6 separate regions of the Homo sapiens genome follow, and all the other regions are linked to region 4. Evidence: fine-mapped expression QTL. A gene starts in region 4. Each other region holds a variant in brackets. All regions are shown on one strand. Distances are between the middles of the regions.

What was found. PIP is the estimated chance that this variant, and not a neighbour inherited with it, causes the effect.
Region 1: its variant is fine-mapped to the expression of ZNF185 in whole blood (TOPMed, PIP above 0.99).
Region 2: its variant is fine-mapped to the expression of ZNF185 in whole blood (TOPMed, PIP above 0.99).
Region 3: its variant is fine-mapped to the expression of ZNF185 in pancreas (GTEx, PIP above 0.99).
Region 5: its variant is fine-mapped to the expression of ZNF185 in whole blood (TOPMed, PIP above 0.99).
Region 6: its variant is fine-mapped to the expression of ZNF185 in skeletal muscle (FUSION, PIP 0.95).

The regions. Positions count from the first base shown.
Region 1 is chrX:152,962,098-152,966,182 of GRCh38, reverse strand. ZNF185 (zinc finger protein 185 with LIM domain) reads right to left here. Exons shown (of 25, transcript NM_001395254.1): 20 at 2,234-2,344; 21 at 656-736. Among named protein-coding and RNA genes, the nearest start is that of PNMA5, 30 kb to the left of the region's middle. The variant C/T (reference allele first, on the strand shown) is at 2,194.
Region 2 is chrX:152,934,421-152,938,505 of GRCh38, reverse strand. ZNF185 (zinc finger protein 185 with LIM domain) reads right to left here. Exons shown (of 25, transcript NM_001395254.1): 16 at 1,993-2,088; 17 at 343-432. The region is part of intron 1 of LOC105373372 (a long non-coding RNA gene); the gene reads left to right. Among named protein-coding and RNA genes, the nearest start is that of ZNF185, 38 kb to the right of the region's middle. The variant A/G (reference allele first, on the strand shown) is at 1,831.
Region 3 is chrX:153,531,352-153,535,436 of GRCh38, reverse strand. The region is part of intron 2 of ATP2B3 (ATPase plasma membrane Ca2+ transporting 3); the gene reads right to left. Among named protein-coding and RNA genes, the nearest start is that of ATP2B3, 16 kb to the right of the region's middle. The variant G/C (reference allele first, on the strand shown) is at 2,561.
Region 4 is chrX:152,895,967-152,900,051 of GRCh38, reverse strand. It overlaps ZNF185 (zinc finger protein 185 with LIM domain), which reads right to left and starts at 1,985. Exons shown (of 25, transcript NM_001395254.1): 1 at 1,814-1,985. RefSeq lists an enhancer at 2,233-2,733.
Region 5 is chrX:152,916,534-152,920,618 of GRCh38, reverse strand. ZNF185 (zinc finger protein 185 with LIM domain) reads right to left here. Exons shown (of 25, transcript NM_001395254.1): 5 at 3,450-3,488; 6 at 3,257-3,334; 7 at 2,465-2,554; 8 at 1,538-1,636; 9 at 208-291. Among named protein-coding and RNA genes, the nearest start is that of ZNF185, 21 kb to the right of the region's middle. The variant G/A (reference allele first, on the strand shown) is at 1,719.
Region 6 is chrX:153,175,173-153,179,251 of GRCh38, reverse strand. No RefSeq gene overlaps it. Among named protein-coding and RNA genes, the nearest start is that of MAGEA1, 2.1 kb to the left of the region's middle. The variant T/G (reference allele first, on the strand shown) is at 2,340.

The sequences.
Region 1 (4,085 bases), 66 kb before region 4:
TACAAAAACTAGCTGGGCATGGTGGTGGGCGCCTGTAATCCCAGCTACTAGGGAGGCTAAGGCAGGAGAATTGCCTGAACCCAGGAGGCAGAGGTTGTGGTGAGCTGAGATGGCGCCACTGCACTCCAGCCTGGGCAACAGAGCAAGACTCCATCTCAAAAAAAAATTAATTAAAATTAATTAACTAATTAATTAAAATTAAAAAGCAAAGCCACACATGTATCAGGAACTGCAGTCACATGTGTGTTCAAATGAGGCAGCCTGGCATGACAGAAAAGAACATGAGGGCAGAAGAGAAGAGCTCTGTGATCTGAAAAGAAATAGGATGAGCTAGTTGGTCCCTAGGGCTCTGCCAGCTCTGTCAAGAGGGGTGTTCTCAGCATTTTACAAAATAAAATAACAAAGACAAGCAGAACAGAATGGCAGTGAAAATGGTGTGCAGGATGAATTCACCGGAAGGGAGAACCCAAAGGTGCCCAGTTCAGTAGAAAATGCATCAATCCCATCAGAGGGCAACTACATCACTCATCCACTCGACAATTACCCCGAAGCTACTCTGAGCCAAGTCCTGGACAAGGAACTGGAAATGCAGGGATGAGAATATGGGAGCCGGCAGGAGAAGGCCGACATGGAAGGGTTTGGGACCCGCTCTTACTTGCTATAGCGTGCAGATACTGGCTTCCCAGAAGACACTTCACTAGCATTCACGTACTCCTTCACGAAGAGAATCCCTTTGCTGTAGAAGGAGCACAGAAGAAATCAGAGGTACACCAGAAGATTCCAGGGAACCAGGCCTGGCCCACAGGAGTGGTTCAGGGCTGGGGAGACCCAGCCTGGTTTGAAGGAAGTGAAAGAGCTCATGGGAAGGCCCAGGATAAAGGCACTGGCACTGCTGTGGACTCAGACTACAATCCCAGGCCATGAGCGTCTCTTGTTGTGTTTGGACTGAGGGCCCCAGAAAGGGGCTTCCTGCAACCAATGACAATGTGCTGTCCTCCTCCATGCAGACCTCGGTGACCCCATCTTCTCCCCAGGCTTCTATACTTCTACACTTCAGTCCTGTGGGCTTTCCACCCCTACTTTAGGGCTGCGTCGTCTTTCCCCTCTACCCACAACCAAGATATCCTCCAAGCCTTAATCCTACACTGTCAGTCTTTACCACTCAGCACTTCCCAGAAGGTACTCAGCTACTGTGCAATCTCCACCTCACATCTAACCTCTCCATTCTCACTCCTAGAGTCCAGAGGCCTAGAGGTTGCCTCATCCTGGACTGGCCTCTGCAGGACTGGAAACAAGGTCTGCATCATGCTGGGCTCAGGATGGCCCCAAATTTTCCCCCATTTCCATGCTGCACACTCCAGCCTGCTGACCTGATGTCTGCAGAGGCCCCCTTGGATATGCCCCCCTCCCGCCCCCAACACACACACCTCACTGAGCAGCCTTCCTGCAGTGACATCCCTTCCTGCACCCTGACAGGTGGCCAGGAATGCAGGTGAAGCAGTGGGCATGTGACAGAGACAGACAAACCTCATGTTGAAATGTGATTCCCAGTGTTGGAGGTGGGGCTTGGAGGGAGGTGACGGGATCATGGGGGGATCCCTCATGAACAGCTAGCACCATCCCCTTAGTGAAAAGTGAGTTCTCATTCAGTTAGTTCACACAAGATCTGGTTGTTTCAAAGTCCGGGCCCTCCCCTTCCTCACTCTTGTTCCTGCTCGTGCCATGTGATGGTCCTGCTCCCACTTCGGCTTCCACCATGATTATAAGCTTCCCGAGGCCTTTGCCAGAAGCCAAGCAGCTGCTGGTGCCATGCTTGTGCAGCCTGCCAAACTGTGAGCCAATTAAACCTCTTTCCTTTATAAATGTCCCAGCCTCAGGTATTCCTTTACAGTAACACAGGAATGCCCTCACAGGCCCGGCCTTCACGGACTGGAGCTGGCTTCCCAGGCATGGACCCATGAATGGCAGAGCCACATCCACTAGTGCACTAGGAAGTACCACTGCAGCCTCTTACAGAGATAGGAAAAAGGAGGTGTGGGAATGTCTAGGCCCGGTAGATGGGAGTTTATATTAGGGGACTAACACTGTCCTGTGTGGCCCCTTGGCTAATGGCCTGCTAGAAACTGGGGAAGGCACTAAATGGGAAGCAACATGGAACAAAAGCCAAGTCCTTTACCGCCAAGGAGGAAGTGG[C/T]GGAGGAACATCTCCCAGGTTGCTAGATAGCCCTTCTTACGTGGTAGAGCTGGAGTCCAATTCACTTGCGGGGGCTGGAATATAAATGTGAGGCTGCTCAGATGTGGCAGTGACAGTAACAGTGACCATGCAGCTCGAGGGGCTCCTCACCCTGAAAGAAATAAAGGGAGGGGTGGGCACGTCAACCTGGGAGCTGACACCTTCCAGGGTCAAACAGGCTTTTCTGAGCCTAACCCTTGAGCACTGCTCTTGAAGCTTCCTCCAAGACCAACAAATGGAACTTCTCACTTTACAGATAAGCAAACCCAGGCTAGGTGAGTTGAGACATGTCCCAGGTCACATCGTGAGTCAGTAGCAAGACCCCAATCTTCCAGTGTCCACTCAGTACTCCTGACTGCAGCCAAGGGCCTTGGCCTCTGTGATTCACTCAGTTAGAGTGGAATCATGGGGCTCCCGGGGATGTGACAGTCAGGAGGGTGCAGAAGGGGAAGACACAGCCCAGCTCACCTCCTCACTGGATGGGACGGTCCCTTACTAGGATCAGCTCCTTCTGCCACCCTGCAGGGAACTCTCTAGAGAACACAAGGCCAAGGGGCAGAGGACCAAATGAAATTAGGCATCATTGAGGAGGAAAGTCAGATGCACCTCATTCCCAGCAGAGGCGGGAAACTGACCGGTGTCGAAGTTTTTCTGAACCTCCACACTTCAGCTGCCAGATATGGCCCTTGGCCTGGAATCCAACCTCCTCGGCAGCCCAAAAGGGCTTTTCTCTGGCCAAGCCAATATCGGCTCTCACTCTGCCTGCCCCCAGGCTATGAGCCTCATTACCAAAGCTGCCGTAGCTGTCAACTGCAGTTCAGGGCACGATGTTGGGCAGCACCACTGACCACTTGTTTGCACCTTCCAACTTAAGTCTGCTCACCCTCCAAAGGCCTGAGGCCAGCACTATGGGTGCACACTGCCCTGGGCTGATTCTGGCTTTTCTCCAACATGCTGTGGCTCAGATCATACTCCAGATATGGCTGCCTCCATCTGGCCCAGGCTACTGGGTATTGTCCCCTTGCCAGAGAATCCAATGCCTAAGATTACAACTAGTTGAAGAGTGGGGAAAGGGAAGAACAATCATGGTCTAGCATCTGCCTAGCTCTCTCGCCTCATAGTCTCAAACTGTATCACGTGCCACTCAAGCCGTACAGACCAGCCTGCAGTTCCCCTGGACTTCCAGGCTCTCATATGCCTTTGCAGACAATATCACCTCCTCTGGGAAGCCCTTCCTGAGGGCCTGCCCTCCTACCTCACCTCAGTGTACCCAATCATCCTGTACCTGTTCCTGCTTCACCCTATGACAAAGAAATATACCATAGAGACTGGAGAAGGTGGACTGGATGGGAGAGGAGGCCCCACAAAAATCTGAAAAGATACACGGGGGATAAAATGCAGAGCCAACAAGTGAGAAAAGGATTGATTCTAAGAGGAAGGAAGGAAGACCTCCTACTGACTGAACAACTACCAGGTGTCTGGTATCCTGTGATCCATGTCAGCAGAATACTGAAGGGGACGGCGCAACTGAAGAGGCAAGGTAAAACAGAAATTCCCTGGAGCTACTTGGGAAGCTGAGGCAGGAAGATCACTTGAGGCCAGGAATTCAAAAACAACCTGGGTAACACAGTGAAACACCGCCTCTTAAAAAAAAGAAAAAATGCCCTGGGCATCCCCCCAGGACTGCAATGTGAGCAATAGGAGCCCTCCCAATAGCCTCCTCTCCCTCACCTACAAGACCCTACAGGGCCCAGCTCCTGCCCCCTGCTCACCTCACCCCGTACCCTCCAAGCACAGGGCTCATTGTTCAGGCCCTCCTCCCTATCTTCTTTGTCCACAATGCCTCTCCCCAG
Region 2 (4,085 bases), 38 kb before region 4:
CCTTTGCCCACCCCCTGCCTGAGAGTTCCTGGAGGGCAGAGGTGTTTCTGATTTGTCTGCATGCTCCAGCCTCCAGCAAAAGGCAGTTGCTGTCAGAGTGGTTGCTGACTGAAAGACCCTTTCTGACTATGATGTATTTCCTGGCCAAGGCAACAGTTTAGTGGAAAGCTCCCTGGCCCCAGAAGCCAGAGGGTTCTGGTTGGGGCTTCTGCCCTTGCTATGTGCCTCAGGCCAGCTCACAAACCTTGCTGGCCTCACCTTCCCAGCCAAAGGCCAATGGACACACAGCCCAAGCTGCCTCTCTCCACCCCAGAAGTTCAGCACTGTCTGCTCATGCCTTACCCCTTTGGGTCTGCCTTTGCATCCTCCTGGGCTGCTGTGCTGTTGCTCTTCCTATCAGCAGGGACAGCAGAGACTGAAGTGGCACTGGAGCTGAGGAAGGAAACACAGGCCTGCTGAGATCTCAGACCAAAGAAGGCTGGGGCCCAGGTCTTCCCCCTCCAGGCTGCCTTCTCACCAGAAAGGGAGGAACTGTGTCTTCCAGTAAAGGCTGGTGTCTCAGTCCTGGCATTAGTGTGGCACCGATGCCACTGTGTGTGACAACCTCATGTCAGCTTTGGACATGGCCTTAGCACCTGAGTTCAAGAGCAAACACTGCCCCTGACCAACTTGGGTTCCCTGGGGAAGTCTCCTGGTTTTGGGTTCTAGTATCCTGTAAGGTACCTGGATGTGCTTTGTTCAAGGAATAGGCAGAGGGGGATATCCAGGCCTGCATGACTCAATGAGTCTGGTGCACAGGTGCACACCTCCACTTCTTATATAACCTGTTTATGTAAGTTCATACTTGGCTCTAAACCACTATTGTCTGTAAAAGGTATAACTGCCCTGTTGACGCTGTGTATGGGGGACATGTCTCTTGGGGCTTGGCTCAGCTCAACATAGCTTGACATGGCGGGTGCACGGGAACCTAGAGAAAGAGAGAGAGCAAGAGCTGTCTGTCTTTGCAGGTGGACAGAGGGGAGCCAGGACAGAGGGGAGCCAGGACACAGCTTGGCTTGCCCGTGCCCAGGGAGAGAAAGAATTAAGCTGCTGACCCTGAAGGCAAGGGAGAGCTGGCCACGCAGCTGTGCGTAGGGGCCACCGGACTAAGCAGCCAAGACAGGGCAGACGGTGTGAGAGTAAGCTGCTAATGAGAAAGCTAGTTTGAGAAAGCTGTGTAAGAGAGCTGCTGCTGAGTAAAGCCATGTCTCATTTACCTGCTATCTCTCGAGTGTTCTTCCAGCTCCCTGCCCCACGTCCACCCATTCCCCTTAGCCCTCAGCTGCGGCTGGAACCTGACCCTGAGCATGACGTATCCTTACCTGACCTACACCTCTGTAGGGTTTATGGGAGTTAAGAAAGATCGTTCCTTACTAGGACTTGCCAAATGCTCCACACACCCACAGCAAAGTGGCCATGCCCACTGGTGGATTGGTGGGTGAAACAGGGCAGACGCTTACAGCATGGGAATGCACAGCTTCTTCCCATTGTACCTTTGTGCCCCAGGAGCCATTTTTGCCCATCCCAGCCACCGGTCCTGTGCTCCTGGGAACTGAGCCCTCTAATGCTGGCTGCCCCTGGGAATCTTCTCCCTGACTCCTGCTTGCTAAACCTGGCTGTAGTCCCTACAGCAGAGGTTCTCTGAGACCTCCTAGCAGGATCTCTTCCCAGGCTCTGCCTTCAGATGCCCTCCTCTCTGCCACCTCAGCTTGGGTCCATGTAGGTTGGTGCTGGGCTCTCTGGGTGAGCAGACATATCACCCATCCCTCTTCTTCCACTGCCCCTGGTCAG[A/G]GCTCCCCCTGGAGTTCCCTGTCTTGCTGTGATCACCTGATGTGAAAGTGGCATGGAGCTGAGAAGTTCGAGGGGGATCCTGGGGTGCTGCAGCTGAGGCTGGGCCCCAAAGGCTGTGTCTGGCAATGGGATAGGGCACTAGGGCAGTGGCCCTAACCTTACCTGATGGCTGCTGGTCTAGGCTTGCAGGACTGAGAGTTGGCACTGTGCCCATCCTGGTCTTCCAGGAAAGAGGCAAAGCTAGCAGCTGCACACAGCCTGTGAAAGAAGGCCAGACCTGGTCCAGGTTCAGGACTTTGTGTCTGTATGTCTACCCTCTCCCGAGAAAGTGGATCCTGCCCCCCACAGATGATGAGGACCAAGAAGCTGCTCAAATGGATGCTTGAGGAACAATATTTATATCTCAAGGCAGCCTGACACCTGGGGCTCTGTGGCATAGTGGTTGCCCTCTGGCGTTGCAAATCATGGCTTTGCTATCTCCCAGCTGTGTGACATTGGGCATGTTACCTGACCTTTTTTTCTGGGCCTCAGTTTTACCATCAATGAAATAGGGATGCTAATCATGTCTGTCTCGTAAGTATTCTGAGAAAAGTAAATGAGTTCATAGATGCCAAGTACTTTGAATAATGCCTGGGCCATAACATGTGCTAATGTGTTCCTGTTACCACAGGGCCCAGTGGCTGTTTATAGAAGCAGTGCACCTTCCCAGTCCACCTGTATTCACCCACTCAATATGGATTTAGTGGGGAATGTCTTACCCAACCTTCTCAGGGTGGAGTCACATTCTCTGTGTCTCTGTAAACCAGGCAGACTGATGCTCACGGCATGCTGAACAATCACTGCCTATACAAGCCTGTGCCCTCCACTAACCAGCACACTCACTAAGAGGTGCTCTTGTTTGGTCCCAGACCTCTTTATGCCAGTTGTATTTGCACAAGAAGGGGACAGCAGACCCTGGCCTCTGAAACCAATGTCTCTGAGCAGATCCAAGGAAAGGCCCCTGGGGCAGCAACTCAGTTCTTTGAGCTGCCACTAATGGAGAAGAATCACTAAGTTCGATGATTAAGTAAATCCATGAAAATGAATGGAAAAGGAGAGTGGTTGTTGCCATGAGAAACAACCTTTCCTTTGGAAAAACAAGGCAGGACGCGATGGCTCACGCCTGTAATCCCAGCACTTTGGGAGGCTGAGGCGGGTGGATCACGAGTTCAGGAGATCGAGACCATCCTGGCTAACACGGTGAAACCCCGTCTCTACTAAAAAATACAAAAAATTAGCCGGGCGTGGTGGCGGGCGCCTGTAGTCCCAGCTACTTGGGAGGCTGAGGCAGGACAATGGCATGAACTCAGGAGGCGGAGCTTGCAGTGAGCCGAGATCGCACCAGTGCACTCCAGCCTGGGGGACAGAGCAAGAGTCCGTCTCAAAAAAAAAAAAAAAGGAAAAACAATAAAGGAGTTTGTTGAAAATTATAGTCAAACTAAGTGTGGTCAGCCCTCTATGTTGTGGGTTCCACATCTGTGGATTCAACCAACTTCAGATTGAAAATATTTGGGACCAGGTACAGTGGCTCATGCCTGTAATCCCAGCACTTTGGGAGGCTGAGGTCGGTGGACTGCTTGAGCCCAGGAGTTCCAAACCAGCCTGGGCAACCTGGTAAAACCTCGTCTCTACCAAAAATACAAAAGTTAGCCAGGCGTGGTGGTCCACGCCTGTAGTCCCAGCTACTTGGGAGGCTGATGTGGGAGGATCCCTTGAGCCCCAGAGGTTGAGGCTGCTGTGAGCTGTGATCACAGCACTGCACTCCAGCCCTGGTGACAGAGCAAGGTCCTGTCTGAAAAAGGAGAGGAGAGGAGAGGAGAGGATGAGATGAGATGTGGGAAAAATAATTAAAATAGGATGGCTGCATCTGTACTGACCATGTACAGGCTTTTTTCTGTCATCATTCCCTAAACAATACAGTATAACAACTATTTACATACCACTTACATTGTATGAGGTATTATAATAATCTAGAGATGCTTTAAAGGGTACAGGAGGATGTGCATAGGTTACATGCAAATGCTACACCATTTTATATCAGGGACTTCAACATGCATGGATTTTGGTATATGAGTGAGGTTCTGGAACCAATCCCCCACAGATACCTAGGGACTACTATATAGGTAAGACAACTGTAAAAGACTGGGTTAAAATTCATGAAAATCTAGAAGATTCTTCAGATGACTTTACAAGTAACTTTGAGGCTTGGTTTCATT
Region 3 (4,085 bases), 640 kb before region 4:
GTGGCTGAGGAGGAGAGGAGGAGAGGGTACACAGGAGAAAGCCAAAGCAGCCACAGGTCGCTGGTGAGTCTGCCAACGTCCCAGCCCACAGCATGGTGCCACCCACTCCCCTCCACGCTCTTCTTCCCTCCAGATGACAAAGTAAGGAGCCAAAGTCTCCCCACACTGAAAGCATCCAGGCCACGGCCCTGGCCCCACTCTGCCGAGCATCGCAAAGTTGTCATCCCTCTCCCTGTCCCCGTCACCTTACCCAAGGATCCGCTAGGGCCCAGGCTGCCCCTTCTGCAGCCATCACAGTGTTTGGCGGGGCCCACTGCAGCTCCTCTCTCTCCGCTCCTTCCCGGCCCGAGCTAAGCCTGTCACATCCTCATGGAACTGAAATGGCCTCAGTGCACATGGCCTGGCCTTGACATCAGCCAAGAGCCCTCCTGGCAGCTCAGCAGGGCCCTGAACCCCCGTCTCTGGGGAAGCTCCTGGCTCAGAAGCATCCGTTGGAAACGAGTGGCCCAGAGCCCTGAAGAAAGGGGAGAAAGCCCTCAGGCAGCCAAAGCAGACACGGCCAAGTCCATGGCCTTATTCTCAGGAGAGGCCCTGGTGGATACTTCACGAAACATCCATCCACAGTGACCCATGTTTGAAAAGCGTGGGCACCTGCGCGTTTACTCTCGCGACACATTGCACATGAAGCAGCCTTCACTTCTGGGAGATGTGGGGACAAAATGATGGCCATGTGCCTGTGCCGTCCTCTCTCCCCACCTCTCCCCGCCCTGTCTTGCAGTTGGTCACCTGACACATATTCACCGAGCAGCTACTACATGCCTGGCACTGGCTTGATGTGCTGGGACAGGTGCTCAACAAGTTTCAACTAACCCCGTCCCTCTCTAGCTGGGACAGGGAGAACAGCAGGCCCGAGGGCCAAGAGCTGTGGGGTTGCAGCTGGGGCAAAGGTGAGGCAAGGCGTCTGGGGACAGGCATTGGGGGGAAAAGACTAGAAGGAGTGAAAGCTGAGGAGAGGGGGCCAGGACAGCAAGCGAAGCTGTCCCAGGTGAGGCGGGCTCCTTCTGGGGGTGCTGTGTGGACGAATTGCCCTTGCTTTTCTGATGCGGGAAACTGAGGCTGGCTTGGGGAAGTGGCAGAGCCAGAGGACAGCTGGGTGTCCCACTTCTGACCCCTCAAGGCAGCAATGGCAGCTTTCGGCTCTCACCTGGACTCCTCGTCTTCTCGAGACAGCCTCCCCTCCCCACCCCAGGACCTTTGCTTGTGACGGTGCACCTGCCAGGGCGCCTTCTCCCTGCCTTCCTGAGCTCCAGTCACCTCATGCCTCAACAATCCCACCATGTAGCAACTTTGTGCCACTGTCAGGTTCAGGCTCTGTGCCCCCAGCGGGTGACAGAGTGAATGGCTTGTGTGGTAGGCTCTTGGGTGGCACACGGCCATGACAGAAATGCTTGTTCCTCAGAGCAGGGGTTCCTCGTGGCACGGTCACCGAGGCCTGGTGGCCCTCCCCTGGCATGTGCTCATCCTCCCTCCTCTGACCATGGCATACCCAAGGCCAGCTCTGTCCTCCCCCACCCGGTCCCTGCCCCTGACCCCACAGCGGTGGCCCAGACAGAACCATACCAGGTCGTACAGCTGCTCCTGACTGGTGCAGCCATGGCTGTGTCTGACTGGACCCACAGTGACTCATGGGGAGGGCAGTGGGCAAGGAGGCAGTCCTCCCCTCTGCCATGGTCCCGGGGCCAACTTCCTTCTCCTCGGCTGGCCCTGCTGGCCCTCCCCACTGCAGGATCCCCACCCCTCAGCAAGCAAGCTCCACGTCCTGTGGACCACCTCTTAGGTCTCTCTCTAGTCCAGCAACTGGTCATGACCCTGCTGTGAGTCACCACTTTCCTGGTTCAGGCACCATCACTCCAGCGAGCCCCTGTTTCAGTCTCCCATCCCCATCAAGCAAAAGGCCAGATTCCTTCTGAGCACTTCCCAGCCCCACTCCCACCCCAGCCACACAGCCCTGCCAGCTCTGAGCCCCGACCGCACGCCCTCTGTTCCAGCTCCACCTGCTGACCTCCGATGAATCCTCTTAGTCACAATTCAAGTGGAACATTCTCCAGGAGTCTCTGCCAGTTCCCCAGCCAAAACTGATTGCGCCTGAGTCTATAATCCCGCGACCCATTCCTATTTCACTCTGCTTGGCGCTGCGATGATCTGTGAGCTTGTCTCCCACCAGCTGGGCCCTAAGCTCTTTGAGACACGTGGTATGGAGTCGGCAGGAAGTCTACCGCGTGGTCAGTCCCGCATGTGGCCGGGGGCCTGGAGGAATGAGTGAATGGGGGCCTGGCCCACAGGGGAGGAACTTGGAGTCCTGGGAGGTGGAGTCTCCATCCTGGAGGACAGGGTGGGGTCGGGGTGCTCTGCTAACCCTCACTGTCTTCATGAATGCAACAGGCTATAGGGCAGACAGGATCCATCAGTTAGAGTAAGGCCCATTTAGAGCGACTGTTGGCTGCTGTGCAGACCAAATGGCATATACTTTGCTTTTCTGGGTTCTATATAAGCCTGGGCG[G/C]TGGCCTCCCTGAGGCCCAATAAAGACAGCAGCCATCGCCGAGATGGCCAAGAACCGAAGTGACTAGGCCTATCAGTTCTGCAGGCCTGACAGAGTTTCCGGCCTGGGCTGGCTGCCGAGAATGGTCTGTAGGCACCAAAAGGGCAGGGAACATACCATTTCTGTGCTCTTTCATCTTTCTGACCTTAATTGGCTTCATTGAAATGAGAACCTCCACAGAGGGGGCCTCGCACCTTCCGGCATTTGCACCATCCCCGCACAGACTGGCCGGCCTCGTGGTGGGAGACAGCCAGGGGGGTCCCTGGCTGCTGCCTCCAGGGGCTGCTGGAGGGGATGGCCCAAGTCCAGGCCCATTACTCAACCGCCTTCTGGACTCTTCTCTTCAGCAGGGCCCAGAGACCCTCACCTCCCAACTAGGCTCAGAGTGCCTACTCCCCACCCAGTGACTCAAACCCACCTGACCAGAGACCCAGGGGTCCTCTTTCCCCTATGTTGTCCCTCCCTGGCTTTGGGGGCTCTGCTGGCACCTCCAGCTTAGTCCCCCATGGACTTCCTCCAGGCCCTGGGCAGCCCAGCATGCTCCAGAAGGCTCGGCACTTTCTAAGTAGGGGGCACCCCCGCTCCCATGGGGCCCCTCTCAGGACCCCATGGCACACACTGAGTTTTGAGCCCACATCTGCATGCCAGCTCTTGACAGACATGTTTCTTTCACTGCACCCTTGGAAACACCCTACGAGGGCCAGGAGAACTCTCCCTGCCTTACAGAGGGGGAAACTGAGGCTCAGGAAGCCTCCTGCTTTTGCCCTGGTTCTCCCAGCCCTGCCTTCCATGTGACTTGAGGTGGGTCATGGCCGCCCTTGCTGGGACGCTCTGATGACACCCCTGAAAGCCTCCCCAGCAGGCCCAGGCTGCATTCCACTCGGCCACCTGCTCCGCCTTTATGGAGGAGAGAACAGATGGAGGGCGAGATCCCACCACCGTCCTCCAGATCTCAGGTGATGCACGCATCGGGATTCACGCCATTCTCTTTCCTGAAAACAGCCCCACTGCACCCCAGTCGAGCACCCCTTCAGTTTCTGGGGTCTGCGTGGACATATATCCCCACAGGGATGATGGGGCATGTACTGCCAGGAAGTCCCAGCTCCCGAGTCACTCCCTAGTCACTGGACCCTCAGTGATGAGAACATGCGGCTCCTGGGCATTCAGACCATCTGGAAGCCAGAGCCAGGCCCAGGATGCCGTGGCCCCGAAGCAAGAAGGAAGCAGAACTCAGGGGCAGAGGGCAGGAGGTGGACGCCTGGGGGCCTACCTGGGCACATGCCCTCCACCGTGGGCCCTCCTGAAGGCAGACTGTCCGTCACCTGCTCCCTACAGACCCACCAAGCAAGGGCCCGCCTTTCAGAAGGGCCCATCACTCAGCGACGTGACTCACTACGGGGATTCCTTAAAACAATAGTCCCCCATCTCTCTCCACCTCCAGGCTCCTAGAACACAGGCCAGGCCCGGCAGAACCCAGAGAGGAAAA
Region 4 (4,085 bases):
GTCTGGACTTGAGCTGAGCAGGAAGTGAGGTGGACAAGCACTGCTGCCATTTGGATTCAGATGGCAACTTCTTACTGACAGATGGCCTCTCTGTCACTCCTCAGGGCAAGGCATGGAGCTGATTTCTCTGTGGGCCCCCATATGCAGGAGCTCAGCAAGAAGTGGTTTATGATCTTTCAGGAGTAACGGGGAGGTTAGACTCCAGCAGCTCCAAAGGACGTGCGGGCCTTGACCTGGTGGCTGCCGAGCTCCTCCTCCTGCTTCCAAGCCCTTCGCCTCCAGGAAGCCTTCCCTGATCTTCCCAGCCAGGGGTGCCTCGCTGCTCCAGGACTGAGGAACCCCTAATGTTTTCATGCTACTCGGAGCTGCAACATCCTAAGTGGTCCTGGGCCACCTCTGTTGCTTGAGTCATGAGTGTCCAGAGGATGGAAATGAACAGATCTTGAGCACCTGCTGCGTGTCTGGCCCTGCACTGAGTGCCTTCCATCAGCTCCACACGGCTGAATGCACAGCATCCAGCCAGGGGCTGGGAATTGCTGGAAGGAGGGGCAGGTGAGAGGGATCTGTTCCTTCCCATCCTGAAGTGGCCTGGGAGCGATGAGGGGAACAGCGGAGGCACCAAGGCCTGCCAGAAGGCTGGCCCCTCATCTGTGCATCTGTGTCTTGGCCACTTGCTGGCCTCTGAGCTGCCCCTTGTTTTTCAGATGAGGAGCGGAGGCCCTGGGAAGGCAGGACCTCTGCAGCTCTGTTCAGGCCTATCAACCTGTGCACCCCTGCCTCCCGCCCCCAGCCAGGTACGACAGCCAGAAGTCTGAAGGGCCATGAGACCAAGGCAGGACTTAGTCCAGGTACTGAAGCCTCAAGCACTGCTGGATGGGGTGTGAGAGGCCCTCTCTCGGGGCTCACAGCTTTGGGGCCTCCCATGATGCCAAGGCTTCGTGCCGACGGCTCAGCAAGAACACAACTCCTACCATGCCTCAGATGTCCCAAAGCCGGGACACACCCACCACCTACTTTATCTGAGTCCCCAGCAGCCCTGGGTGGGAGGCAGCTTGACGTGTCACCCCCTTAAACCGACAGAGTACCCAGGTGTCCCCAGCTCAGAAGTGGCAGATCAGGCAGGAGCACCTGAGCTTTCGGCCTTTTTGTAAGGCAAGGTATCCCTCTGCCTTTCCAAAGAGGACAGACTCTTGGCTCCCTCTGCCCCCATCAAAACAATCCAGCCACAGAGCTGGTGCAGTGCCGATCCTGTCGATAACACCCAGTGACACCTGATTCGGCGCCTTCTGTCTGAGTGTGAGCAGCCACCATCCTCATGGCCCTCCCCAAGATTGCCCTGTACCCAGCACATGCACCTCACAGGCCCCAGGGCGATTGAGGGGATCCTCTGGGTGAGCCAGCCTCTGGGTCTCAGTTTCCTCATCTATAAAATGGGCACAGGGGGACGGAGGGATATGAGATTCCCTGATTCTTAAAGGCCTGCAGTCAACTCTCAGAGCATCCTGGCCCCTCGCCGTTTACTAACAATTAAACCGTGTCTTTCCTAAAGGGCAAGACAGAGGGATCAGGCTGGCAAGGGGGACACTTGCCTCTGTAGGGGACGCTGGCCTCCTCTGCCTGTCAGTCTTTTCACTCACAGCGAAAACCAGAAATCCACTGACTCCCGGGGGGAACCCGAAGAGAGATGCTTGGAGCTGGTAAGGGTTATGGATGGGGAAACTGAGGCCCTGACTTGTCCCCAGCTGGGCACGGACTGGGTGCCCCCCACTGCCTCCAAGCAGGGCCGCATCCAATGGCGACTCGACAGCCCTACCTGGCACCGGTGCCCGGCTCGTGGGGCGGGTGGAGGGTCGGGCAGTCGCAGGGCGCGGGCTCCCTCGGGTGGACGGCGCCCGGCCGGGCCGGGCCGGGCCGGGGAGGCAGGCGCGGGGCGCGGGGCGCGGTGCACAGCGGGGAGCGCGCAGGGAGGCGAGGAGGCGCGGACTGGGCTCCGCCCGCAGGAGAACAAACAGGTTTTCTCCGGCCGCCCGGAGCCTCGCCCCTCGCCCCTCCCCTCGGCCGGCCCCTTCCTCTGCCCCTCCTGGGGTAGGTAGAGGCGCCTGGCACATTCCGCACATTCTCCCGCCAGCGTCCTCCGCCCGCCCGCCCCTTCTCGGCCCCGCCCCGCGGGGCTGCTGGAGAAATCAAGTCTGGGGCTCCCCTTGTCGAGCACGGGGCGAGCTCCAGAAGGCTCTGCCGTGATGGAAAACTTCCAGGCAAATTCCTCCGGGCCCGTGGCCCCCAGGCCGGGAAGCCTCCGCCACGTGAAGGGCCCCCGCTCCTAGTTGCGCGATCTGGCCCCGGCACAGGGCCAACGACTTCCACAGATGCTGTCGGGTTAATTCAGTCGAGAACTACCGTTCCTAGATCCATTTTACAGATGGAGATCCCAGACAGGGGCGGGGAGGGGGGCGGGGGGCTGGCGGCTGAGATCATCCAGGAAGTCCTGCAGGCAGGAAAGGAGGAGAAGAGTGAGGGAGCCGCTCATCGTGGAAGGCCATCCTGGGACGGACCCGGGGCTCACAAGGCACAGCAAACGGGGCTATCTCCCAGGCTGGGCGACGAGATACAGCCAGACTCCCAGAGCCAATGCGGTTTGATGTACCTGTGTCACGCGTTGGTGCTCACCGAGTGCTTTATTGTGTGCAAGGCCCTGGGCTGGGGCTAAGGATGGAGAGAGCATGGAGGAAAGACCCCTCACCCCACGGCCTCCCAAACAGGGAGACAATTAAGCCAGCCCAAGAAATGGCATGGACTTGGCCAGGAGTTGGCCTACCAGGGTGGTAGGCTCAAAAGAATGGACCAGCTGCTTCTCCTTCATCAAGGCCTGCCAATGTGGTGTTTCCATGGCCCTCCAGTCCACCCACTTCTCCCTGTGCCTGCTGCCACCACCCTAGTCCAGACCTGGCCCCGAAGACCAGCCTCCTTGCTGGTGTCCCCCTGCCTCTGGTCTTGCCTTCCTTTCCCTCAGTCTCTACACGGAGGTCAGGTTAAAAGTTCACGTGTGTCAATATGATCAGGTGCTCTCCTGCTTGCAACTCCTCCATGGCTTCCCATTGCTCTCAGGGTAAAAGCCAGACTCCTTGAGACGACCTATCCCTGCAGGTCCAGCCACTCTTCCCTTTGTTCAATACATTACAGCCACACTGGCCTTTTTCCATTGCCTTCTGAATACATCACATGGCGCTCACCTTGGGGTGTTTGCTCCTGCTCCTCGGACTCCCTAAAATGCTCTTCATCCCCGTCGGGCTAGTGAGCTCTTAGTCATTCTTCAAGCCTCCACCCAGTGTCCGGAAAGCCTCCCCTGCCTGCCACCCAGTCGAGCTGATCACTTCCTTCTGTGCACCCCTTAGTTCCCTCAGATGACATCAATCCAGCATAGTGGCTGTCACCCTCTATTGTTCTAGATCCTGAGCTCTGGGAGGGCAGGGCCCCTTCTGATTCATCACTGGGTCACGGAGACCAGCACAGGGCATCCGAAGAATTTGCAGAAGGAAGTGATGGATGGGTGAGTGAGGCTGTGGAAGCTGTCCTCATCCTTTTCTTCTTGGGGTTCATGAGATAGGGAGAAGGCGACCCTGTGTGTGCTTAGGGGGTTGTATATAAAGTCACTTCTGTTCATGTCCGTCTCTTGCCAACAAGCATTTTTCTGCTTCCAATATTGTATGCCCCTGTCTGGTGGCCAGCAACTAACACCTCCCCTCCTCCACTGTGGCTACTGGTGGCCATGGATTTGGCTTGGCATCTTACCTCCTAAACATGTTTACTGTATGACTTAGGCTGTGTCATACTCTTTGTCTGGGTCCCAGTCCTCTTCAAGAGCCCCTAGTTTGAAAGGGTAGAAGGTAGAAGACATCATGATGGGTGAGATGTAGGGCAAGGAAGAGGGAAAAGGCAAACTTGTTCAAGAGCCCTGAGTCAGGGGTGGGGGGCCCAGCTGGAGAGCATGAGCAAATGTGGTGTCCAACGGCACGGCCAGCAAGTGAGGACTGCCCCAGGCTGGGCCGCCCCAGGGCCTCAAGCTCTTCCCATGTCCCAGGTGACTC
Region 5 (4,085 bases), 21 kb before region 4:
TCTCCATTCCCGGCACTTCACTGTCCCTGGTGGTAGCCGCCAGACCTCTCCATTTTCTAGAAAGTACATCTGAGAATCTGAGAAGGCTCAGCTAGGAAGGCCCTTGGGGGTGATCTCTCCACCCACCCTTTCATCAGCCAGAGAAGGCTGGAGCTCTGAGGAGAGGAGAGCTGTCCTAGAGCCTGGAGCCAGTTGGTGGCAACTCACCCAGTGCTCTTCTTGGCCGCTGACAGGACGTAGGAGTGCTCCCGGGGAGCTGTCCTCCTCAGAACACCGCTTGCAGCCTCTGACCTGGGGTGACACGGGATGGGGGAGCATCTGATGGGTGCCAAGCTGGACATGCTCTGCCAGCCTAGCCTGGGATGGACTCGGGGTGACTTAGGGCCACCCCAGGGAGGCAAGGGGTGAGAGAAACCAGATTTGCACCTGCTCCAAGGACTATTCAAAGGAAATGTAGAACCTGAAGGAAGGGCAGCCCATGTTTATGGAGCATGTGGCATGTGCCCGGCTCTGCGCCAGATGCCAACATCCTCGCATTGGCTTATTGCTCTTCTCAATCCAGGAAAGTAGACGCTAGTATCCTCTGTGATTTACAGATGAGGAAACTGAGTCCAAGAAGCTTTCATTATTTGCCCAAGAGCACTCACCTAGCAGGTGGCAGAGCTGGCATTCAATGCTAGGCAGCTCCTAGCTTCTGGCTCTTTTCCTTGCTCCACCCAGGCCTGGGGGCCCCTGCCACTGTGAACTGTTCCCTGAGGATAGCCAATCTGCCAGGGCCTTTGGCAATGGGGCTTTGCTGTGATTCCTGCGCCACAGATGGGTCAGCAGATATGGACCTGGTGGCTGGCTGAGCCCAGGGAGGGGAGGGCTTTATTTCCTCAGGGCCCAACTGCTGTACAGGCCCCAAGCCAAAGGCATACAAAAGGTGCTTAACAAACCCTTCCTGTCATAGTTCACCAGCACTGGGTGGTATGTGGTCAGTCCCCATGGACAGAGGACTGAGGAGGGGCAAGGGTCCATGGAACTTTGCTGGCCTGTGTGGACGAGGGCAGCTTGGCGCAGAGACTAGGGTAGAATTTCAGCAGCATGGGGCACACTCCCACTGCTGTGCATGCCTGGAGCTCAGTTTGGGGTCCGGGGCATTCAGAACCCCCAAGGCATGCAGATCATGCAGATAGAGGGCACTGTGCAGGTGGCTTCTCCCTGAATATTTTTGTTCAACTGTCTCAGGGCCCTTTCTAACAAACCGATTTAGAGCCCTGAAGAGCCTCCACATGAGGAGGCTTTTCCCCGGACCCACATTACCTAGGTTCTACCCCACAGAAGGTTCTCAAGGGCCCCTCAGCTGGTCCAACACTGAGTGGGTGGTTCTGGCACTCAGAGAATGACACCTATTCTCATGCTCCGTGGGCTACCGCTGATGGCCTACGTGTTGTGCATTTTGTCACCCCAACCAGTACAATTCATTCCAGCAGTCTTCGAAGACTCAGGCTCCTGCCCTGCCCCCCGGGATGCCCAAAAGGCACCATTCCATTACCTCCGTTTCTGTTCATCTGAGGAGAATGGCACCACCTCCTCCTCCTCCTCCTCCTCGGTGTCCCCTGATGTAGAGCTGCGCCTGATATTGTAGGGTGCCCTAAGAGAGGGGAGAGGCGCTTTCCTGTCATAGGCTGCCACCCTCAGCAGCTTGGCTTCCTGGCTTTCAACAACAATGACGA[G/A]GCAAGTCAATATCTCTGCCTTTGGGCCTTAGGTCATGCCACTTGTTCCTCCCTGAGACCAGCTCTCCCCTCCCTCCCTGTTCGAGCCTCTCCCCTTCCCCAGAAAGGTTACCCAGCAGCTCCCCAACCCTGGATGATGGAGGCAAGGGACAAACAACGGAAAGATGTGGTCCCCTGGGAACTAGAGACACAATTCACACCTCTGTCCAGAGAACCCTCCTCCCTGAGCATGCAGTGGGGGGTGGGGGGCTTTGAAAGGGACCCCAAGGGGAGCACTAAGGGAAAACCCGAAGGTTTCTATCCAAGAAGCAGCTCAGATTTAGGCACACAATGCTCAGACTGACAGCAGCACCCTGAGGATCCCCAGGCCCCCAGCCCAGTGCAGCCAGGCAGAGCACCTGAGGCTCGGCCGGGTGCAGGGCCAAGCCCAGGAAGCACAGCCAGCCAGCAGCAGCCTCACGACCCATGACCCTTTCCCCAGATCCGTGGGGCCCCTCCTACAAGCTTCCTGCGGTCTCCGCTCTGCCTCGGATCAGACGTGCAATGTGCACAGCCATCCAGTTTTCTGGGGCTTGTTACCCTCTGGTGGGCTCCAGGCCACAGCTGCAACTGGCAGGGAGTGTCAGGCAGGCGGGACTTCCCGGGCTGTGCTCGGTGGCAAGTAGTCAGCTGCCTTCAGTGGACCCAGAGTTTGGACTTGTTCCTTGGAGGAGGGAACCACGCTGAGCCTGGCGTTGCATACTCACAGCTTCTTGTAATCCTCAGTGGTCATCTTGTAGCCAGAGGAGGAGGGGCGGGGAGGACCAGCGTTAGCTGTTCTCACCAGACTGGCAGCACTAGAGAGGAGAAGGTTCCATGTGTCTACCTGCAGGCTCCCTCCTGCCTCCAGATTTGGCCACACAGCCCAGTGGACACATGAGAGGTGGACCAGGAGCTGCCTGGGAGCCTTTCCTCTTTGCTTTTGGCCCTGACAGACACCCGGAACTGCGCCACTCAGAGCAGCTGTGTAGGCAAACCCCACCGAGCTTCAGGGAACAGCCCAGCGGGCTCTTGCCTGTGTCTTTGCTTCCTGTTTCCGGGTCCCCTTGGCCTTTCCAGTCTGACGGAGTCCCAGGCAATGCCTGATGCCAAGGTGCTTGAATTGCATGCAACTTCAGCCTTCTCAATGCCATCAGCAAGTCAAGTCAAGGGTGCCCACTGCCAGGCTAGGGGGACTCTACACCCAGCCCCTCCCAAACTCCTGCACCTCTCTGTCCCATTAGCCAGGCCTAGTCAGGACTGACCCCAGGACAAGGACACTGTTAGTGGCCCAGGACCTCCCAGAGACCCACACATCCACTTGGGACTGCCAGTCCCACCCCAGCCCATCTCCTCTGGTCACCCCACCCTGCTCTCCAGGGTCCTGCCCTACCCAGGATGAAAGCTGGCACCTCCAAGGCCCCACAGTCCTGATAGGCAGAGCACTGTCTCTGCCAGGAGCCCAGACCAGGCCCTCACACCTCCCCACTGGCCGACTGGCCAACACCCCATGGACATACCTTTTTGGAGTCCCGTTGGCCTTGGGGAACTGCTGCTGGGGCTGGGAAGAGCTGTCTATGGGCTTGGTGAACACTCCCCTGAAAGAGAGCCCAGGAGATGCCGGTGAGCTCCCTGGAGGGACTGGAGGGGTAAGAAGTCAGGGCTTGGCGTGAGTGGGCACAGGAAGGCCGGCAGAGTCCTGCGGTCACTTACCGGATGATGTAGCCAGTGGGAGCCCTTGTGCTCGGAGGCCTGCCGAAGAGAAGAAGGGGTGGAGTGAAGCGAGGCTTGCTGGAGGGCTGAGGTCATCCTACTTTATCCTGCCCTTAACGATAGCAAATAAGATTGGCTGGCAAGTGCTCCAGGTGTCCCAGTACAGCAGAAACGAGGGGTGCCAGCCCCCTGTGCCCCTGATCAGGTGCCCGCTATGCTCTGCCTATTTCCCTCATGCTCCCCCAGGAAAAGTGCCCCAGGTGACTCCTCATGGCAGGTGCCTAGGAAGGCAGCTTGATGGCCTCTCCAAAGTCCAGCTTCTCCTTGGCCAGCCAGTTCCCAGTGCTGCGCCGACGGAGCACTGCTCTCAGCTGACAGCCCTCCCATCCTCTGTGCTTGGGGCTGAACCAGTGCAAGCTGGAGGCTCCCCAGTCAGAGCCAGAGGCTTCCCCTCAGCCCGGGGTCTGACCTGATCTCCCTCAACAGCCTCCACCAGGAAGGTGCATGAGGGCTTGAAGGGGAGAGCCCAGGCAGCAGCCAGCCGAAGCCAGCTGTCCCCCTTCCTGTCCCTCGGGGCCCTCTTTGCTCCAGCTCCTTGCATGCCCACACCCCAAGTCTTGGTGGAAGTTTGAGACG
Region 6 (4,079 bases), 280 kb before region 4:
CCGGGCACCCGGATGTTTCCTGGCGGGAACCGGATCCTGCCTGGGTGGGGGTGGGAGTGGGCGTGGGGGTGGGGGTGGGGGTGAGGGTGGAATGGCTGGGCGGATGGGCATCAGGGTTGAGGGATGGGGTGGGGGATGTGGGGTGGGGGTTGGAATGACAATGAAGAGGGGGTTGGGTCACGGGAGTGAGCATTGGAGTGGGGGTTGGGTCACGGGAGTGGGGTCTTAGGGACCCTCAGCCCTCCTTGAGAATCCTGAGCATGATGTCTGGCAGAGCCTGGACGCTGCCCTCTCCTAAGCAGCCCTTCCCTGATCACACGAGCTCTGACTTCAGAGTCCCCAGTGGTTTAAGCAGCAAGGGGGCTGGGGGTGGCCCAGCCTGAGAAGTCCACCACCAGATGGTCCAGGACTGGCATGAAGGGATTATTTGGGGTCCTCTATCTGGGGTAAGTGGGTCCTCAGTCCTCCCTCAGCATGTCACCTTGCCTCCTTACAGAGCCTGGGCCCGCTTCCCTCCACCGATCTCAAGCCGCCCCTCAGACCGAAAACCTCGCTTCTCTCTAACCACTAATGCTCAAGTCAGTGGCGTCACATCTGGGCACCTGGGCTTCCCTGGGTTGAGAGCAGGGGTGGAACCGGATTCTGCCTGGCTTGGGCTGGGGGTGAGCGTGAAGATGTTTGGATGGGTGGCGTAAAGGGAGGGATTGGGGGTGGTAGGGGGAGGGATGCCAGTGGTGCCCCGGGGCTTAAGTCGTCGTGTTGGTGGTAGTGGGGTTGGGCGTGGGGTTGGGGGACCCTCGGTCACCCCTCAGGGTCCTGACTTTCATGCCTGGCAGAATCTGGACACCCATATTCTCTGCCGATTGTGTCTGCTTCTCTCCCACCAAGTCTCTGGCCCCCAGTCCCATGAGGTGGCAATGGGAGGGGGGGTGTGGTCGTGGTAACATTGCCAGGGTCTTCCAGGGCTGACAGGAGGGGCTGAGCTGCATTCTGTGGCCCATCTACGTCGGGAGAGTGGACCCTCTGTCCCCACTCAGGAAGGTCCTCCTCCCGGCTCCTGGCACTTTGTTGAAGTCATGGGCGGGAGATGCTGTTTCTGCCATCTCTGAGCATTTGCCCAGCTGCACCCATTGCAGAGAATGGCTGCAGGTCCCAGGCCAGGTGCTCCCTGCAGAGTGGCAGCTCCCGCGATTGTAGTGACCTCTGGGAGAAGACGCACACCTTCCCACGGGGGCTTCTCTCCAGCCAGAGCTACACTTGGCAAACCTTTTGTCCTCAAAGTAATATGTTTTACTCCCAGGCACGGTGGTTCACGCCTGTAATCCCAACAGTTTGAGAGGCCGAGGCGGGCAGATCACTTGAGGTCAGGGGTTCAAGACCAGCCTGGCCAACATGGTGAAACCCCGTCTCTACACAAAATACAAAAATTAGCTGGGTGTGGTAGTGCTCAGGAGGCTGAGGCGTGAGAATCGCTTGCACCTGGAGGCGGAGTTTGCAGTGAGGCGAGATCGTGCCATTGAACTCTAGCGTGGGCCTCGCGACAGAGTGACACTCTGTCTCAAAAAATTTAAAAAATGAAAAAGAAATACACTTTTCGTATCTTCCAAGGATATATGTAGGTAGCTGTATATATATATGTATTTATTTCTAGGAAAGAATACCTACCAGTAGTATGCATGATTCACTCTTATATCCTATTCTACTTCTTTTCCATTCTTTACGTTCTGTTGAAATAATTTTTTTTGAAACACAATTTCTCACCCACTATGTTGGTGTCTGGTTGTTATTAGTGGAACTCTTGATCCATACTGTCTTAACCAGCCCTGTTTAACTGGTGTCCTGCTGTTGCCCTAGGGCTACTAGCATCATGTTTTGAGGAGCTGCCTCAGACTGTGTAATGATGTGAAGTGGAAATTTGAAAACTTTCATTGTAACCATTTTGTCAACTGCAGTCTAGGCAGGGTACAGACCTCCCCAGTATCCCTGCTGCCACCCCCCCTCCAACCGAGACTGCAAGTGTCAAACACAATTACCAGTTCAACCATCTTCAGCATCACCCAGGGCTTTCTCTATTTTGTTGCTTAGACTTTGTTGCTGATATTGTGTCTTTCTCCTTCTTTTTCCCTTCTATAATTTTCCAGGGTTGATTTGTGAAGCAGAGAACAGCAGCCCAAATTTGATTGTCACGTTGGCAGCCACAGGTAAGACATAATTTGTACATAATTGTACATAATTGAAGCACATTTGACATTTTTACAGTGTTCTCTTTCTCATCAATGAATATGCTATGCTCCTCTATAATATGTGTGTGTGAGTGTGTGTATATATATATATATATA[T/G]ATAGAGAGAGAGAGAGAGAGAGAGAAAGATGGCATCTCCCTCTGTCTACCAGGCTGGAGTGCAGTGGCACTATCTCGGCTCACTGTAATCTCCACCTCCCAAGTTCAAGTGATTCTCCTACCTTAGCCTACTGAGTAGCTGGGATTACAGGTGCATGGCACCATACCCAGCTAATTTTTGTATTTTTAGTAGAGATGGGGTTTCAACATATTGGCCAGGTGTGTCTGGAACTCCTGACCTCAGGTGATCTGCCCGCCTCAGCCTCCCAAAATACTGGGATTACAGGCATGAGCCATCGCACCCAGCCTCATGTATTAATTTCAAACTCCTTTTACTTGAATCTGTCAGTATACTGTGATTGTTGCCTCTATAAAGACCTTCTGCATTTTTACTAGGCTTCTTTTCAGGTAATTCTTGGATTTTGATGCTATTGAAAAAGGCATATTGTATATTAAGTGTTCTAGTTACTGATTGCTTTCATCTGGCAAAGATTTTGATTTTGCTATTATAATCTGTTGTATACCTCATTCTGAAGGCCCATTCACTTGAATCTTCCACATGCCTACTCCTTTGAATTTTCAAGACTGATCATGTTATCACTAAACATTATATATTTTTTCCACTATTCATACTCCTTATTTATGTTGATATTTATAGCTCTGACTTTGTGTCTCAATACTGATTTAAAAGCTGGAGATAATACCTTACATCTAATTATTTTTCCTCTCTTTAATAATAAGTCCTCGAACATTTAGCATTTATGTATGTTTGCTGTTGATTTTAGTAAATGGAAATTCTCTTTCAAAAGAAGTTAACTAAATATGTTTACTTTGAACTCATATTGAATTTCCTTCAAAAGCTTTTCCTATACCCAGTGATATGAGCACTTATCTTTTTCTTCTCCATTTTGTATGTAAGGAATTACAATGAAATACGTTTCTTTTTTGTAACAATAAATCATATTTTCTTTCCTTGGGCAGAGCCTGTTTGTTCATTTAATATGCTACTAACTTATGTAGGATATGTGGTGTTATGTATGAGAGCTTCCTTGATGTGTTTTTGTCCATGGGTGGGGGTGGTCCTCATCTGGTTTTTGTATCCAAGAGGGCAAGTCTGGGAGAAGGAATTGAACGATAGTCTATATTTTGTATGCCTTGGAAGAGTTGAGGTAAGATGGTAGTTAGTTTTTCCTGATCATTTTGTTCAATCGGCCTCCAAGACTGCCTAGACTGGAACATTTGAGGGTGGCTTGAGCTATGAATATTGTACCATTTCTGTTTGTATAGTTTAAGTTTTCTTTTCCTTTTTGGACCAATTTGGAAATGTATTTATTTTATTTCTGCAAAGTGTTCAGTTTCACATAGGATTTCACTTTAAACGGTGTGAAATTTGCGATAAAAACTTTTTCTTAGGGAGCGCCTCAAAAACCTTGAATAATAGAATAACATAATGAAACCAGAACACCTGTCACTCAGCATCAACAACCTTCAATACATGTCATATCTGGTTCCAGTTTGAGGCTCACCTACTTGTATCTCAGCTGCTGGAATAATGTGGAGCAAATCTAAGACATCATTCCATTTCATCTCTAAATACTTCAATATGTTTTTCTAAAAGTTAAGAACTTTATGTTAACTAAAATCCCAATACAGTTTTCATTTCTAAAAAAATTAAATAAATGGTTATCAGATGTTTAACTGATTTACACACTTATCTGGCAGACTTACACTTTGTAAAAG